Regions from separate parts of the Homo sapiens genome. Here region 2 is linked to region 1. A link means that fine-mapping ties the variant in region 1 to the expression of a gene that starts in the linked region. Tissue or cell type: whole blood. Region 1 holds a variant in brackets; the other region holds the start of a gene. All regions are shown on one strand. Distances are from middle to middle. Region 1 has its middle 28 kb from the start of XYLT2. Region 2 holds the start of TMEM92-AS1 (TMEM92 antisense RNA 1).

The links. PIP is the estimated chance that this variant, and not a neighbour inherited with it, causes the effect. A credible set is the group of variants that fine-mapping cannot tell apart.
Region 2: TMEM92-AS1 starts here. The variant in region 1 is the best candidate, but not a certain one, in a credible set for the expression of TMEM92-AS1 in whole blood (TOPMed, PIP 0.84).

The regions. Positions count from the first base shown.
Region 1 is chr17:50,315,178-50,320,626 of GRCh38, reverse strand. No RefSeq gene overlaps it. Among named protein-coding and RNA genes, the nearest start is that of XYLT2, 28 kb to the left of the region's middle. RefSeq lists enhancers at 1,446-2,024, 2,025-2,604, 4,325-4,454. The variant G/T (reference allele first, on the strand shown) is at 3,412.
Region 2 is chr17:50,285,743-50,290,742 of GRCh38, reverse strand. TMEM92-AS1 (TMEM92 antisense RNA 1) reads left to right here and starts at 2,888. Exons shown (of 4, transcript NR_125805.1): 1 at 2,888-3,003.

The sequences.
Region 1 (5,449 bases):
GGCTGGTGGAACCTTATCCTGTCCATATGCCAGCTGATGCAGTGTCTTTCTTCATTCAGGACGTTCTAGATCTTAACTTAGGCTGGAAACAGGACAAGGAATCATGACTTTTTGTTGGGTGGTTGATGTTTTAAAATAAGCTCTTGGGCCGGGCGCGGTGGTTCATGCCTGTAATCCCAACACTTTGGGAGGCTGAGGCAGGCGGATCATCTTAGGTCAGGAGTTTGAGACCAGCCCGACCAACAAGGAAAAGCCCCCATCTCTACTAAAAATACAAAATTAGCTGGGCTTGGTGGTGCATGCCTGTAATCCCAGCTACTTGGGAGGCTGAGGCAGGAGAATCGCTTGAACCCTGGAGGTGGAGGTTGTGGTGAGCTGAGATCACACCACTGCACTCCAGCCTGGGCAACAAGAGCAAAACTCTGTCTCAAAATAAATTAAAAAAATAAAATAAAATAAGCTGTTTTTGGCTGCTCATCTATCTTACCACTAGGAATATTATGTTCTATTAACCATTTCCGGCTTGGCATGGTAGCTCATACTTGTAATCCCAACACTTTGGGAGGCCAAGGCGGGCAGATCACTTGAGTGCAGGAGTTCAAGACCAGTCTGGGCAACACGGTGAAACCCCATCTTTACTATTAAAAATATATCTTAAAAAAGAAAGGAAAAAAACACCATTTACTTAGTTCTCTGCAGCAGGACCTCTGGCTGCCTCCCTGACCTTGCTGCTCAGTGTGAGAATCGTGCCCACCTTCTGACAGATAAGTGCTGCTATCAGAGGCGTTGAAACCAGAGCAACTCCATCTTGAATAGGGGCCGGGTAAAATGAGACCCACTGGGCTGCATTCCCAGACAGTTAGGCATTCTAAGTACAGGATGAGATAGGAGGTTGGCACAAGATATAGATCATAAAGACCTTGCTGATAAAACAGTTTTCAGTAAAGAAGCCGGCTAAATCCCACCAAAACCAAGATGGTGATGAAAGTGACCTCTGGTCGTCCTCACAGCTACACTACCATCAGCGCCATGACAGTTTACAAATGCCGTGGCAATGTCAGGAAGTTACCCTATACGGTCTAAAAAGGGGAGGCATGAATAATCCACCACCTGTTTAGCATATCATCAAGAAATAACCATAAGAATGGGCAACCAGCCACCCTCGGGGCTGCTCTGTCTATGGAGTAGCCATTCTTTTATTCCTCTACTTTCTTAATAAACTTGCTTTCACTTTACTCTACAGACTCACCCTGAATTCTTTCTTGCGTGAGATCCAAGAACCCTCTCTTGCGGTCTGGATCGGGACCCCTCTCCTGTAACACTGCCACTTGGCCTTGATTATTTTGGGCTCCTCTTATCCCTATTACTATCAGCTCCCCCCACCCCCACCACCCCGCTCTGTAACAGCATCTCCCACCCTCACGGCCTCCCCGAGAATGGCCAACGATAGACTTCTCGATGCTGCTGCTCCTCCTCCACCAGCACCTTCTTTACTGCTTTGGTAAAAGAGTGATTTATGGGCTCTCCCAGGGAACATAGTCAGCTGGGGAATTTGCAGGCCCGACACAGGCTGATCCGGTTGAGCAAACCCTCTCCTTTGATCCATTTGATCCCTTCTGCCATCTGCCATGCTGTTTGAACTTTTCTCCTTAACTTAGTTTGAGCCAGTGCTGTTTCTAGGCTTCCAAGAGCCATTCTAGCACCTTCTCCTGGGGTCCTTGCCAGGGGGTAAAATCCTGCATCACAGGAGCACACTCCTATTCAATATTCTTTCCTATCAAGCTCTATGTTTTGATCCTCATCCTCAGAATCCAGTCCCATCTCTACTCTCCTGAATCCTGCCAGCACATGTTGGCAAGTTCCTGCAGCTCCTCCAGGGTACAGTCTCATTCCTTCCTCAGCAGCAGGTCTGGCGCATCCCTGGCCGGTTTTGTTGTGACTTGATAGCTATTTGTCTGGTGGCCAGGAGGGAGGTGCATTTCATCTTGCAAAGCAGAGGCCCTGCACTATCTTCAAGCATGAGGGGAGTTTTAGCCCTTAACAGTGGGCAGGGGGCCGCTTCTGCAGGCCCAGTGGGTTCAGTGGAATCTGGAGATTCAAGATTTTTTTAGTGCATTGACCCAGATGTGCCATCCCAAGTCTCTGAGTTCTGATCCTTCTCTACTGGGGTATGACCTGACAGAGCGGACGTGCTCTGATTGAGAATCCAACCTCTCTGAAGCTGCATTACCCTTATAATGAAGCTTCGGGCTGATCCTTAGCTTTTTCTGCCCTCCAGCTACAGAGTCTCTATATGCTGCCAAGAGACTTTCACACTTTGTCTCAAACTGATGATTAAGTACTCTCAAACTTTCATTGTCTTCCTTTAAGCATTGCTAGCCCCAGAGCCATCTGATTTCACAGTCCTTATATTACTAGTTCACTCAAACCTCTCAAATGCCTGGGAATTTGCTTCCACCAGTGCCTCCCTTCCATCAGTTTCCCATCATTCCTGCACATCCCCAGTGAAAGTTTAAACAAGTACACCACGCTAGAATGCCAGGGGCAATTATTGCTCCACCTTCCAGCTCCAAACACCTATTTTAGAATCTGCTTCCTAAAAATTACTCCTGGCCTCAGCTGCCTCATGTCTGGGTCCCTCCCTGCCAATAGATTTGTGATGGATATTTACACGCTGGAAGTGACTGGGCCATGGTCTCAGAAACAATACTTGTAAGGTAGTAAACGAAGCAGGTTGAGCAGAGGGAGAAGTGGAAAAGTGGAACTGGGTTGCAGTTGCAGCACAGCCTCAACTGATGCTAAAGGGAGCTTTGGACCTGAGGTGGCCCTTCAGAGTTGTCTCAGATCTAGGCAGGAGGACTACGCTTTTGTACTTCTGCACTGACCAATCATTGGCAGATCACATAAAGCTTGGGCTAGGCGGAGGATAGTCTTTGGATGGGAATAAATAAAGCCTGGGCATTTATGAACATGAAACAATGCCTGAAGGCTCAGCTGCGAGAGCTGTGAGCCATCAGCAGCCAATCTTCCCTACAGCTGGAGAATGAGTGGTCTGGTTTTGAAGGGGAGAGAGAGAGGTAGTGCACTCTAGGAGCCACTGACCTGAGGAAGGGGTTGACCCAGCAGAAGACAGAGAGGAAGGGCATAAAGACACCAGGTTCTTGGTGACATCCTTTGAGCTGCAGGATGAAATCCTGCCTGAAGCCACATTTCAAGTATACATTTCAGGTAAGCATGTAGGCAAGTTCTCTTTGTTTAAGCCACGTGAGTTGGGATTTCTGCTGCTGGATAAAATCTTGCCTGAAGCGGCATTTTATTTGCACTTTTCTCTAAAGCATGCAGGCAAATTCTCCTTGTTTAAACCATGTGAATTGGGCTTTCTATCACTTGCAACATAAAGACTCTCCATGG[G/T]CTGGGCATGGTGACTCAGGCCTGTTATCCCAACACTTTGGGAGGCTGACAAGGGAGGATTGCTTGAGCTGAGTTCAAGACCAACCTGGGCAACATAGTGAGACCTCATCTCTACTACAAATTTAAAAAAATCAGCTGGACATAATGGTGCACGCCTGTAGTCCCCGCTACTCGGGAGACTGAGGTGGAAGGATCACTTGAGCCCAGGAGATCAAAGCTTCAGTGAGCCATGATTGTACTACTGCACTCCAGCCTGGGTGACAGAGTGAGACCCTGTGTCAGAAAAAAGAAAAGAAAAGAAAAGGCCAGACACAGTGGCTCATGCTTGTAATCTCAGCACTTTGGGAGGCCAATGTGGGAGGATTACTTGAGCCCAGGAGTTCAAGACCAGCCTGGGCAACATAGTGAGACCCCATCTTTAAAAAAAAAAAAAAAAGAGTATCCATGAATTCAAGTACAAACTTTAACAGTTTATTGCCTTTTTAAAAATCAAAAGCTAAAATTAAATTTGTGATTTGGAAAATTTATTAGTAAAAAAGGTTTCTGCATAAATTAATGATGGTTCTTTTCTTGCTCCATAGTGCTACCTGAATACGGACTGAAAATTACTTATGGAAATATTTACAAGCTTATACTGCAGTGTAATTGGTGCTTGTTTGAGTGCTTCATTAATATTTAATTTTGCATCATTTCTTGAGCTAACTCATTGGCACATTTTCAGCATTCCACTGACAGACTTAACATAAATCACATTAATAATAAATGGCATGAGAGCTTTTTGTATTTCTTTTCTGAGCTATCATTTAAAGATAATTTTCTATGACAGGGAATTTTAAATGTACTATTAAAGATAAGACTTTCTTAATGTCTACTTCAGCAACCAACAGGAAATACAATGTGATTTTAATTACATTTATGTCTTGGGTTTTGACACAGTGCTTTCTGCTATTAACTCTTGTGAAGTGTACGTCTTCATAAAGCATTTTCAGCCATCCATGAAAAGACAGACTTGCTCAGACAAGTACTCGAAACTTAAACTATACAAGCAACTCCATGACATGAAGCAAGACAGATGTTTCTTTGTGGGAACTGGGGCTGGTCATGCTTGTCCGAGTGGCAAGGACCTAAATTCTTTAGGTGGCCAATATTTCTGTAGTCAGACAGTCTCCCCAAAGCCAGAAAGAGTGGAACCCACAAATTCCCTGGTCTCAGAAGAGAACATCAGCTTAGCTTGGCAGGGCTGTCTTAGGAGCCTGTCTCTGCAGGCTCACTGTGCTCATTTCTAAATGTACACCTGCAAAAGCATGAAATTAACACTTTAAACAAGTCACATTTGCCAATAAATAATTCAAAAGTTTTATGTGGAAAAGAGAAAATATGATAAACCACTGAAAGCGTATCTTTAAAATGCATGTCATAATTAAGAATTAACCACCAAAATTTAAAAAAAAAACCCTTAAAATAGTTTAAAATTCTTTTTTTTTTTGAGACGGAGTCTTGCTATGTCACCCAGGCTGGAGTGCAGTGGCGTGATCTCAGCTCACTGCAAGCTCCACCTCCCAGGTTCACGCCGTTCTCCTGCCTCAGCCTCCCTAGCAGCTGGGACTACAGGCGCCTGCCACCACACCCAGCTGTTTTTTTGTATTTTTAGTAGAGACGGGGTTTCACCATGTTAGCCAGGATGGTCTCAATCTCCTGACCTCATGATCCACCTGCCTCGGCCTCCCAAAGTGCTGGGATTACAGGCGTGAACCACTGCACCTGGCCAAAATAGTTTAAAATTCTTAAAAAACATTTATGGCAAAGCACATGGATACTGAAATTAAACACAAAAATGATTTCCCCCCCCCATATTGCTTGTAGAACAGTCAGGATTCTTTTGATTGCGAGTGACAGAAATCCAGTATAAAAGGCAATAGTAGATTAAAATAACCAAAAATGCCTGTTTTGTTACAAGTAAGAATAGGGGCCAGGCGTTATGGCTCACGCCTGTAATCCCAGCACTTTGGGAGGCCGAGGCGGGCAGATCACTTGAGTC
Region 2 (5,000 bases), 30 kb after region 1:
GTGAGGATACCCGAGCGGGGTCAGGGATAAGCAGCACACACCACGTATGTGTTTTGAGATGTTACCTTCTCGGCAGGTTCTGCAGAGGATGGGGTTTGAAGCTGCCTAGAAGCTGCCCTCTGCCCCAGGATCCTTAATGAAATACCATTTGGCTGTGGAGGTTCAGGGGACACTAGAGGGCAACGGGCTGGATGATGTCAGCGATTGTGGCTCTCTGGGCTCCCCCAGGAGGGTTCCTGGGAGTGGGGGCCAAAAGCTTCTGCCTGTCCTGGATGAAGATCTGGCAAGTCTTAGGTAGTTCAAAGCGAGGCTCACCAAGCCACTTGCCCCTCACCCACTTCTTCCTGAAACCCCAGCGTAAGTGCCTCATGGGGTTGTAAAACCTGCCTCTAGCAAGCCACTGGGAACTAACAAACACTGTGGTTCTGGGGACAAGTTCTTGGCTGGCTCCAGACACCATCTTGCTACACATTTCCAGGATGTTGAGTCATCTGTTTAGCAAGGACCAGTCTGATTCAGGCTCACTCTGTTAGCCTCATATATTACGTGGCCCAGGAGGAACTAAAACTCCTGAAAACCTGCCAGGGCCCATCACGCCCCTCTCTGTTAGCCTGAAACTTCAGGAAAAGTCAGATCCACACAGCAGCTTGATTAGCAGTGCTTGTCAGGGGTGGGTGGAGCAGGAAGAATGCTGTGTCTAGGCTGGGGTGGGGGGATAGGAGGAGAATGTCAGCTGTAGGAGCCAAGGGGACTGGCAAGGAGCTGTGCAACCACGCAGGAAAAGCATCTGGATCCTCCCTTGAGCTACCCAACTTTATATTAAAGGTAAGGGTGACCTCGGAAGGCTGGGAGTTTTGGGGATTCACAGGTGGCCAACACTGGAGTGGGTCTCTGATCTCTTTTTAGCCTCGGTTAGGAGGATATTTGTTGGCTCAGTTTAATCTGAATCCTGCATGAGAGTTTTGCAAAGAGATGAAGACCTCCTTTGATCCTGTCTTCCTTGTGTGAGAGCTCAGCCACAAATAGAGTGTAGGGTCCTTTCAGTTTTCACCTCTAACAACTCTGACTTTGTTCTCTCCATTCTCAGCTTCCTGCGCCAATCCCCCAGGTCCCAGATCTCCAGTTATATTTCAGGGGTCTTCTATTTTTATCCTTTCCCCTTTGTTTTGTGGATAAGAGGAGGTTTAGGTGCATTTCCCTCCAACTGAGGACTTTGGAAATCTTGGCAGGCTTTGGAAATGTCACATGGCGTGGCAGGAGGAGCGGCTGTGCAAAAACAAATGAGTGTTCCCATCAAGATGTTTGCAATTTAATTCTAGCCTAGCTACTCACTGACCTCAGCCTTAGGGATGTCATGGACTTTCTCAGGATCCATTTCTTCATCTGTAAAATGAGGGAGTTGGTCTATAGGCTACTTTAGGCTCTTTGGATTGCAAGTGATGATAAACCAACTCAAACTAGCTTGAGCAAAATAAGAGATGTCACTGGGTGCTGTGGCTCACACCTGTAATCCCAGCACTTTGGGAAGGTGAGGAAGGAGGATTGCTTGAGCCCAGGAGTTCTAGGCCAGTCAGCAACGTAGTGAGACCTCATCTCTACAAAAAATTTTAAAAATTAGCCAGGCTTGATGGCATGTGTCTGTCATCCCAGCTACTGGGGAGGCTGAGGCTGAGGCAGGAGGTTCACTTGAGCCTGGGAGGTCGAGGCTGCAGTGAGCTGTGTTCACACCACTGCACTCCAGCCTGGGTGACAGAGAAAGACCTTGTCTGAAACAATGAAAACTAAGACAAAACAAAACAAAACAACACCCCCCAGCCCAAATGAGAGATGTGTTAGCTTTTTGGTTGCCAAGGAAGGGAGGAGTAGCTAGGCCATAGTAAGGCAGCTGGATTTCAGAAACAAACAGAAACAGGCATCGCAAGGTTAACAGGACTTTCTCTCTGTCTCCTGTCTTTACTTTCCTTTGAATGTTGGCTTCATTCCTTCTCACTCAACCAGGTTTTTTCACATAAGGGGCTAACATGGCCACCAGTGGCCCCATCTCCATCTCACACTTTTACTACCTGAGCAATCTAGGATCGGACAGATTCCCTGAGCTCCAAATAGAAAATTCTCAGGGAAGGGCTCTGATTGGCCCAGATTGGATCAGTGCCCACCCCTGAACCAGTCAACCGTAGCCAGAGAAGTAGGATCAAATGGCTGCCCCCAGTTCCACAGTCATTATGTGAATGAGGGTGGGGGTGGGGGCAGATGGAGACAATTCCAAGAGAAGCCAGATGGCTGGGCATGTGGCAAAAATGTGTGCAGTATAACCTGTTCTGAATCTAATTGTTGATGAAAGTTCTGCTATTGCTGTGTCAAAACACAAAATTGTCTTCTTGAGCCTCCAAAGTGATCGCAGCTCACTGCAGTCTCGACCTCCCAGGCTCAAGTGATCCTTCTGCCTCAGCCTCCCAAGTAGCTGGGGCTACAGGTGTGTGCCACCATGCCTAGCTAATTTTTCTATTTTTAGTACAGATGGGGTTTCACCATGTTGGCCAGGCCGGTCTCAAAATCCTGGCCTTAGGTAATCTGCCTGCCTCAACCTCCCAAAGCGCTGGGATTACAGGCATGAGCCACTGCACCCAGCCCATAAACAGTGCTTTTTATTGGGTACTAGAAGCATATGAATAGCAGAGCATAAACCTAAATTTGATCTAATGACCTTTGACAGTGTTAAAAGCTCTGGAACCTGGAGACAGGAAACCAGTTTTTCATACTTTTTATTTTGAAATTATTATAGATTCACAGGAAGTTGCAAAGATAGTACAAAGTGGTCCCAATTTTCTTTGCCAAATTTCTCTCAATTTTTTTTTCCAGACAGGTCCTTGCTCTGTTGCCCAGGCTGCTGTGCAGTGGCATGACCATAGTTCACTGCAACCTCAAACTCCTGAGCTTCAGCGATCCTCCCACCTCAGCCTCCCAAGTAGTCCCATAGTCCCAGCCCCTGAGCTGGGACTACAGGTATGTGCCACCATGCCTGGCTAATTTTTTATAGAGACGGGGTTTCACTATATTGCGCAGACTTGTCTTGAACTCCTGGGCTCAAGCAACCCTCCTGCTTCAGCCTCCGAAAGCACTGGGATTACAGGCAGGAGGCACCTGACCTCCAAGGGTTACAGGGTTACATCTCTTTTTTTTTTTTTTTTTTTTGAGATGGAGTTTCATTCTTGTCCCCGAGGCTAGAATGCAGTGGTGTGATCTCAGCTCACTGCAAACTCCGCCTCCTGGGTTTCAGCAATTCTCTTGCTTCACCCTCTGGAGTAGCTGGCACAGGTGCGTGCCACCACTCCTGGCTAATTTTTGTATGTTTAGTAGAGACGGGGTCTCACTATGTTGGCCAGGCTGGTCTCAAACTCCTGACCTCAGGTGATCTGCCCACCTCAGCCTCCGAAAGTGCTGGGATTACAGGGGTAAGCCACCGTGCCAGGCCCTCCAAGGGTTACATCTTATGTAAAGTATCAAAGCCAGGAAACTGACGTGGGTATAATGTGTGTGCCTAATTCTGTGTTGTTTTATCACATGCAAATTTGTGTAACTACTACCTCTTCAAGTAAAATGCAGAACTGCTCCCCCACCAAACAGATCTCTCTGGTGAGACCTCTGTGTAGCCATACCCACTCTCTCCCCATCAACAACTAATGTGTCTCCATCGCTATCATTTTGAGGAGGCTGAGTTTTAAATCAACTTCCGACCCTCTCAGCAGTGTGACCTTGGATAAGTCATTTGTCCTTTTCTGGATGTTGATCTTCTCAGCTAAAGTAAGACAAGGTTGGCTCACATCAACATTCCTCTTGAATTTCCACAGGCTGATATGATCTGAAAATGCTACGGAGATTATGAGAAAGAAAATGGGGTTTTATGGTGAAATAAACTAGGGAAATGATGCTTTCCATAAATACATAATGCTTCTTTACCGTGAATTCTCAGCCCTTTAATACACTAAGGTGAACTGTGAATCTTCTAGTGTGGGAGGTATACGCAGCATTTTCCAAATTTATCTGAACACAGAATGCTCCCCCCACCCTTAAAAAAATCCTCTAGAAAAAAAATCACTTGGAACTAGTTTTTCAGGGAATATGCTTAGAGATATGCTTTTTCAGGTGACCTCTGAGGTCCTCCTGCCTCAGGGATCCCACCCAGATTAAATGCCTAGAAATATATCCTCCCTCGTGGGTTAAATTATGTATCTTCAGCCAAAACCTACGAGTGTGACCTTATTTGAAATAAGGGTCTTTTCAAGTGTAATTAAGATAAGGATCTTGAGATGAGATCATTCTAGTTTAGGGTGAAGTCCAAATCCAACGAAGAGTGTTCTTATCAGAGACAGAAAAGGGGGACACGCATAGACACAGAAGAAAATGATAGGCTAGGCATGATGGCTTGCACCTGTAATCCCAGTGCTTCGGGAGGCTGAGGCAGGAGGATTGCTCAAGCCCAGGAGTTCCAGGCTGCAGTGAGCTATAATCACCCCACTGTACTCCAGCCTGGGTGACAGAGCGAGACCCTGTCTCTGAAAAAAGAAAGAAGGAAGGAAGGAAAGAAAAAGAAACAAAGAGAAAGAAAGACAAAGAAAGAAAAAAAGAAAGAAAGGAAGAAAAAAGAAAAGAGAGAGAGAAAGGGAGAGAGGAAGAAAGGGAAGGGAGGGAGGGGAAGGAAGGAAGGAAGTAAGGAATGAAGGAAGGAAGGGAGGGAGGGAGGGAATGCTCTGTGCTGTAGAGGCAGAGTCTGGAGGGCAGCCATAAGCTAAGGGCCACAGCCGCCAGAAGATAGGCAAGGGCAACCTTAGCCATGCTTGGATTTCAGACTTCTGGCCTCCAGAACTGAGAGATAATAAATTTCTGCTCTTTTAAGCCACCCACTCTGTGGTTCTTTGCTACAGCAGCCTGAGGAAACACATAACCCTCTTTTCAGACTCTTGGGGTATTTCATTTTTATTTATTTTTTGTAGAGATGGGGT